2 linked regions of the Homo sapiens genome follow. The protein of the gene in region 2 interacts with the protein of the main gene of each other region in a pairwise test. Each region holds a gene or a part of one and is shown on either strand. Other genes may lie near its edges.

Region 1 (3,579 bases), on a different chromosome or scaffold from region 2:
TATGGAGCAGTAAGTACATTTTTTTAACTTAAGTAAATTAGATTTTTCTGTCCAAACAACTTTACTGACTTGGCTATTTCACCACTAATTTTTTTTTAAATTTAAGTTAGGTTTATCTTGGAATTCTAATCAATCCTTATTTATTGTTTTCACAAATACTGCAGAATTTTAGATTTTCGTGAAGGTATGTGTACACAAATAAGTAATTCATTAAAGTTTAATTGGTTGATTTTTCTCTATTTCAGTAAAAGCTATAAATCTATCTTTCTATCTAGGAAAAGGATTGGGATTTAGGTAAAAGTGAAGAAAAGTGGAATAAAAACCACCATCAAACTGGGACTAGAAAATTACTTGAAAGTAAATTTACTGTTGCAAAGCACATCAGAAAATTTTTCAATAATCTGAGAAATATAAATATTGACATAAAGCTAAAATAATGCAAATCCAAGGCCTGAAGTTGATGAGACGCAAACCTGCATGTTTATTCAATTGATGGGGCTACAGAAAGGAAAGGCAAGAGAGTGAAGGAGGTAAAACACCAGGCTGCAATGGGTCCTTCGCCCACTAATTCCTTTGGTGCTGCTCCTGGTCCAGGTCAGCAACAGCCCCCTCCAGAGCAGCAGCCAGAACCCCCAGACTGCTGGCCACTGCCACTGCCATAGCAATTGGAGCTCTTGGGTCTGTGGCAGTGGGACCTATGGTGTCTGTGGTGGCTCAGGCAGCAGCCACCTCCCTCAGAGCTGCAGCAACCACAGCCCCCAGAGCTGGAGCCACAGCAGGAAGAGATTGGAGGTGGGCATGAGGATGCACACTTTGAGGGACATTTTGGGGGATACTTGGGGATAGGACACTTGGGAGGGGGCTGGCACTGCTGTTGGTTCTGCTGGCAGGACATCTTGGTGGGATTTCGATAAACCTGAATGACAAAATAGAAACATATACAGAAACTTAATATCAAGAGCCATTACATTTTTTTTTATTTTAAAATCCTCCCCCAAGGTGATGAAGAGGAATATCTAAAATATGGACATGTATAGAAACCTCTTTCAGACAAAGAGTATATCTTCATTACTTTTGTACCCCTAGAGCTTTCAAAAATTCTTAGTATTTGTTAGGTGGTTAATAAGTGACTTCTGAGCTAATAAAGCCAGCAAAATTTGAATGCCATCTCAAAGACATGTTAAATACATTGCAATTCTACCCACATGAATTTATCTAGAAATGGAATTCAGAAATTCGTAGAAAATCTGTTTAATAAATAATAATAAATTTGAGATCTGCACGGTTAGAGAAAAGCTTCCTTCAGAGCAATGGGCTTAGGACCAGCAGGCCAACCATTGGTAGGGATGTAGCAATCCCAGGTCATTCATCATCTTCCTGTCTGATCACAGGGATAATCCTTCCCAGGTTGGTTCCTGCTTTGTCCAGAGCCAACTACTACTTCTGGCCTTCTGGCCTTGTCCACCATGTCATCCTCCTCCTACTCCACGCTTCACTGTTCGACTTCCAGAATTACTCTCCATCTCCATCTTCATCCCGCTAGCGTCCCCCTCTGGATTCCTATAGAAACACTCACCGTGGGTTCAGACGCAGCAACAGATACGTCCCTTAGGAAGCAGAGCAGATGAGAAGCCAGCAGCAGGAACACACTTTGTATGGATCCTGGGGCTGGGCCTCGGATGAGCCATGCTAATGGCAGGAGCAGGACGTGGCTGTTGCACAAGTGTGGGGTCATGCCTGACATTCTCCTGCCTCCTGGTTTCATCTCTTCCTGAGCTGGATGATGAGCTTCCCAGATAGCCTCTTCGGCACTAGTGGGAGAGGGGGTGACTATATGAGACTTTCTGTAAATCAGACCCTTTTCCCAGGCTAAGGTCTCAATGTACAGCAAACAGAGGGGTTTAAGGCTATGGGTACTTACCTTTCAAGCCTCCCTCTGAACACGCTTTGCTCAGTCCCTCAGGAAGAACTTTGGCACCAAAGGCTCCAAGACTGCCCCACATTTAGCCCCTAACATATTCCAGCCAAATTTCAGCCAGAGGCTCTGGGCCTTTCCCAGGTCAGTCAATCCTGAGAGGCTGGTTTGGTGCCATAGGCCTCCTTACTCTTTTAGAGAGTATCTCCCATGCTTTTAGACCAGGCCAAGTCCCCAGTCCTAACTGTGGAGAGAGATGCCCCTCGGTCAGCCACTCTTCTCTTTAGAATTTCTCTTCTATGAACCCTTCAGCCTGGAATTCAAAGGCTATCATATTTGACTACTTCTATTTGGGTTACCAAGGAATGTGTCACCATCAAGGGGCCTTTTGAGTAGGAGTTTCTGAGTTTTTCTGTTGTGTGTTGTGTATGTGATTCTGCTGCATTTAAGTAGCTCATGAGCACAGATCAGAGACTTGAGACTTTTACCAATTCAGGAACCTTTTGTGGAAGTATCTGTCTGTCAACTACACACACACACACACACACAAGTTGCATTTATTGCAACCATTTTTTAAAAAAAGGACTGATTTTTTTTCTTCAACAAACATATAAGAAGATCATTATGAGGAAAATATTTTTCCCATCATAGAAAAAACTCTTCCCTTTTACCCATCAAAACACTCTAAACCAACAAGAAAAAGAAATTTGGTGTGTGTTGCTCTAATTCTCAAAAGGTTTATATAGGATACAACTCTTCATGCAACCCATTAAGATTGATTTATTTCTCCTTATGTATATCATATATGTTATACGTATATACACATATAATCACGAGGTACTTCTGGAAATACCTACTATGCAAAATAGATGTCTAACAATGACAAAAGTTAGCTGATATTAATGAACATGAAGACATTGATAATGATGACAAGGAAGATGACTAAACCCCCAGCCTATATTTCCTCTCTGTAAAGACAGAAATTACCTACTTTTATAGTAATTTCTGCTATTACTAACTCAGAAAATGAGTATTAGACAGCAGGAACGGAATTGTTGTGGAAGGCAGATTTTCTGGCAAGTATTATTGTAGGAATGTCCTCCCATTTTCCATCTCTCTCCCAATCCAGTGCCCCATGTTAATGGTGTTTCTGGCAAGCAAATCATCAGCTATAGAGGGATGTGGTAACAAGCAACAACCTACCACATTGAGCTCTTAATCTGTGACCAGCACTGCCTCAGTTATGTGAGAAATACAATGAATTAACCTTGTTCCTGTCCTCAGGACCTCAGAGTAGAACTGGAGAGAGAAACAGAAACACCTGAGAAGTTAGATAGTGATGCTGAACCTCAACACAAGAGAAACACGGTGTGATTAAAGGAAAATTTCAGGGTTGACACCAGTGGTCCTAGTAGGCAGTCCTAAAACAAAAGATGCCAGGACTCAACTGTAGACAAATTAATTCAGAATTTCTGGGAATAGGGCCCCAGCATTGGTGTTTTTTAAAAGGTCACAAGTTGAATGTGTTGCACAAACAGAGATGAAAGCTATTGGTGTAGCCCTACTCTGCACAATACAGTAGCCACTAACCACATGAGATGATAAAGCCCTTGAAATATAACTTGTCTGAATTGAGATGTGCCATAGCATGACACTGAGTTTGA
Region 2 (3,752 bases):
GGGGACTTGTCCCTTCATGGTCACAGGATGGCAGCCAGGCACCATAACTTCACACAACCCTGCCCAAAGGCAGGAAGGCCAGTGTCTCTTTTCATTAGGAGGGAAACCATTTCCACAGTCCCCAAAGTTGGCTTTCCCTCAAGTTCCCTTGGCCAGCATGGATCTCACATCCCTGTCGCAGCTGTAGTGGAAGCTGGGAAATTACGTAAATACGACTTTTGGGCAGGCAAACAGCATGCCTGCCGCATAGTATGCCCTTCAATTATTTCTTCTTAGCAGAGTCTCCTGATCGTCTTGGGAAATATAGTGCTGATTATGGATTTGCTTATCCTGTAGAAATACTCATATGAAAGGAATGGTGATAGAAAAAGCAGGAGGTGGGTCAAAAATGGGGGTTGCATCTATTTCATGAGGATAGTTACTGCTGTGTTTATCTAAAATGTGTAGATGTGCTTTTCCTCATGAAGTCTTGCTTACGCAGTTTAGGGTCAATATACCATTGCTTAGAATGAATGCGTATAGCAAGTAATTGTTGAAGGTTGAGTCCATTTATTAAAATAACAGCATCTTTTTAATTTTACTTTTGCCTCCCTTTCTGTCCTGTGCCTCCAAAGTGTTCTCTACTACTGAATATAATAGATGCATATTATGTTTTAGGCATGTAGTCTTCCTTTTAGAAGCCCTAATCACTTATGTTACAAGGGACAATGTGTAAAGACATATACTACATGTTGTGATTTAAAAGTGAAGAATTAAAAGAGAATGGGGCTGGACACGGTGACTCATGCCTGTAATCCTAACACTTCGGGAGACTGAAGCAGGAAGATCGCTTGAGCCCAGGAGTTTAAGACCAGCCTGGGCAACATATGGAAACCACATCTCTACAAAGAAAAAAAAAATAGCCAGGTGTGGTGGCACGTGCCTGTGGTCCTAGCTACTCAGGAGGCTAAGGCGAGAGGATTGCTTGAGCACAGGAGGTCAAGGTTGCAGTGAACCATGATTCCATTACTGCATTCCAACCTGAGTGACAGAGTGAGACCCTGTCTTAAAAAAAAGAGAGAATGGGTAGCTGAGTTGCCTAGAATGCTCTAGTTTATGAGCTGAGTGGATATCACAGGGGGATAGGTGGAAAATGAGAGGGGGTTTAGTTTGCATAAGCTATCTTTAAAGCCAAGTCAAACTAATGGGGAAGTGAGAAAGAGAATCTGGGTCCTATCTGTGTGAGGGGTAAATGGTAAGGGGAGCTGGAGCAGTTCTTTTAAATATGTGTGTATGTGCTGTTTATGCACTCTTTCCTTTCCTCCCCTTAGGTGGTATTGGCAAAAGGAAAAGATACCGAAGTATGTGGAATTTATGAAAGATAATTACCCTCCTAGTTTCAAATATGAAGATTTTGGACCACTATTTACAGCAAAATTTTTTAATGCCAACCAGTGGGCAGATATTTTTCAGGCCTCTGGTGCCAAATACATTGTCTTAACTTCCAAACATCATGAAGGTAAGTCAATCCAGCCTATGGAAATTGCTGACAATGGTTAAGAAATGAAAAGTTGTTCTTTTGGAAGAAAAAACTAAAGCAAGGTCTAATTTTCTCTTCGGAGCAACCATAAGTGGTGACTGGCACTTGCTTATGACTTAGGGACTGCACATTCAACCCAAATTGAGAGATGTTAGGAATACAGAAAGGATCATACCCGCCACGTAACAGAGGAAAGATGGTCACGTTTTGTCACATGTATTTTGAACAATATTTCCAAGATTTACTTAAAGCTGTTTGTTGAAGGGAGTGTGGGTTGCAAGTCAAAGTTCATCTTGGAATTGCACTCTTTCCTTCCCCTTCTCTGTAATGCATCCTGTGAATGCATCATGGGGATTATACTGCTATAGTCTTGCATCATTACGACACACCTGGCTGCACTTTTAGCCAACTCTTAGCTGGCCAAATGGTGCAAATAGTGGATGAACTGATAGTGATGAAAGTGATGAAAGTGACCCAGATCACCTGGAGGGAAAAGGATTGTGGAACTGTAATGGTTTCCAGAAAAATCAGAGGTGGTAGAAGAATATCTAAACCCCCACACATTTAAAATCCATTCTATTTTAATAGAATGGATTCCACCCATTACCACTCCAGTATTTGTAAGGCCAGGGAAGCATTAACAAATTGTTTTTGTTCCAACGGCTTGTTCATTCATTAGTTTCTTTTGCATGATCATCTTTGCCTTGGTATAAAAAAATTTGCACTGGATGTGGTCGCTCATGTCTGTAATCCCAAAATTTTGGGAGGCCGAGGAAGGAGGATCATTTGAGCCCAGGGGTTCAAGACCAGCCTGGGCAACATAGTGAGACCCTGTCTCTACAAAAACAAACAAACAAACAAAAACTAAAAAATTAGCGTAGTGGTATGTCTCTGTAGTCCCAGCTACTTGGGAGGCTTAGGTTGGAGGACTGCTTGAGGCTGCAGTGAGCGGAGATAGGCTTACTACACTCCAGTCTAGGTGGCGGAGGGAGATCCTGTCTCAAAAAAAAAAAAAAAAAAAAACGGGAAACTTTGCCTTATTGTTTTCTCCAGGGATGGGATGGGAATAGGAGAGGAGAACCAACACAAAAAATCTGGAATGATCATAGGATATTTTTCCCTTTGGCCACATTCTGGTAGCTTCATGATTTTCTCCTGTAGATATTTATCCTGCTGAGATGAATGTCTATCAAGTGTATTTGCTTGAGAACATGCTGATTTCCTGATGTCTAGGAACTTTCCCAAGCTGTATGGCACAAAACATTACATAGTGAGTTTATTTAATAAAAATTGTTAATCAAACTGTGAGGAGAGATGATGTAGCCCACATGTATACATTTTCTGGGACCCATGTTGTCAGATGTTTTCATTGCTCATGGAAAATGCATACTAAGCTCAGGAAGGAACGTCGCAGTGTAAGCTTATGGTGGTGATATTCAAATGAAGACTCAAGTGGTTTTAGTACTGTCTGACATTAGGGCCTGTCAAGTTGAGTAACTTTGAGTATGACTTTAGATATCAACACTGCTCTGAAGCTTACCACAGAAATGATAGGAACAAGAGTGAGCTGTTTTAAAAAGCTTATTAAAATGAATCTAAGGCTAGGTGCAGTGGCTCACATCTATAATTCCAACACTTTGGGAGGCCAAGGAAGGAGGATTGCTTGAGGCCAGGAGTTTGAGACTGGCCTAGGCAGCAAAGTGAGACCCTGTCTCTGAAAAAATAGACAAAATTAGCTGGGCGTGGTGGAGTACACACCTGTAGTCCTAGCTACTTGGTAGGCTGAGGTGGGAGCATCACTTGAGCCCAGGAGGTCGAGGATGCAGTGAGCGAAGTTCGCACCACTGAACTCCAGCCTGGGTGACAGAGCCAGAACCTGTCTCAAAAAAAAAAAAAAAAAAAAAAAAATCGAAAGTATGAGTCATTCTTAGACTTGTTCTAATTTACCAAGAGTAAAATGTTTCACCAAATGTACCTTATAAATGTCTATTCTCAAAGATTCTTTTAGATTTTAGTGGAATAGTAACAATGTATTTAAGTCTCTAGGCACTGATGAAATTTTTGAGGCTTTCATATTTATTATGTTTTAAGTATTTCAGTTTATATATCTCTTCTAACATTTTTATATGGAACAATCAGTAATCTAAATACAAATTCCTCTTAAAAACGAACCACTTCTAAGTGTTTGTATAAAGGTATACATTGTTTTTCTTATCTATGTAGTTGGTAGACT

The links. The genes of interacting proteins can lie anywhere in the genome.
Region 1: the proteins of FUCA2 (region 2) and LCE4A interact in binary tests that used the Homo sapiens proteins (3 or more experiments, as listed by UniProt).

Annotation. Positions count from the first base shown.
Region 1 is NC_000001.11:152,706,392-152,709,970, reverse strand, and holds LCE4A (late cornified envelope protein 4A), read right to left. Parts: upstream 1,812-3,579; 5' UTR 1,577-1,811; intron 925-1,576; exon of another isoform or gene 917-924; 5' UTR 896-916; coding exon 596-895; 3' UTR 537-595; downstream 1-536. UniProt on the Homo sapiens protein: Precursors of the cornified envelope of the stratum corneum.
Region 2 is NC_000006.12:143,504,983-143,508,734, reverse strand, and holds part of FUCA2 (plasma alpha-L-fucosidase precursor), read left to right. Parts: intron 1-1,310; coding exon 1,311-1,498; exon of another isoform or gene 1,499-2,765; intron 2,766-3,277; exon of another isoform or gene 3,278-3,319; intron 3,320-3,752. UniProt on the Homo sapiens protein: Alpha-L-fucosidase is responsible for hydrolyzing the alpha-1,6-linked fucose joined to the reducing-end N-acetylglucosamine of the carbohydrate moieties of glycoproteins.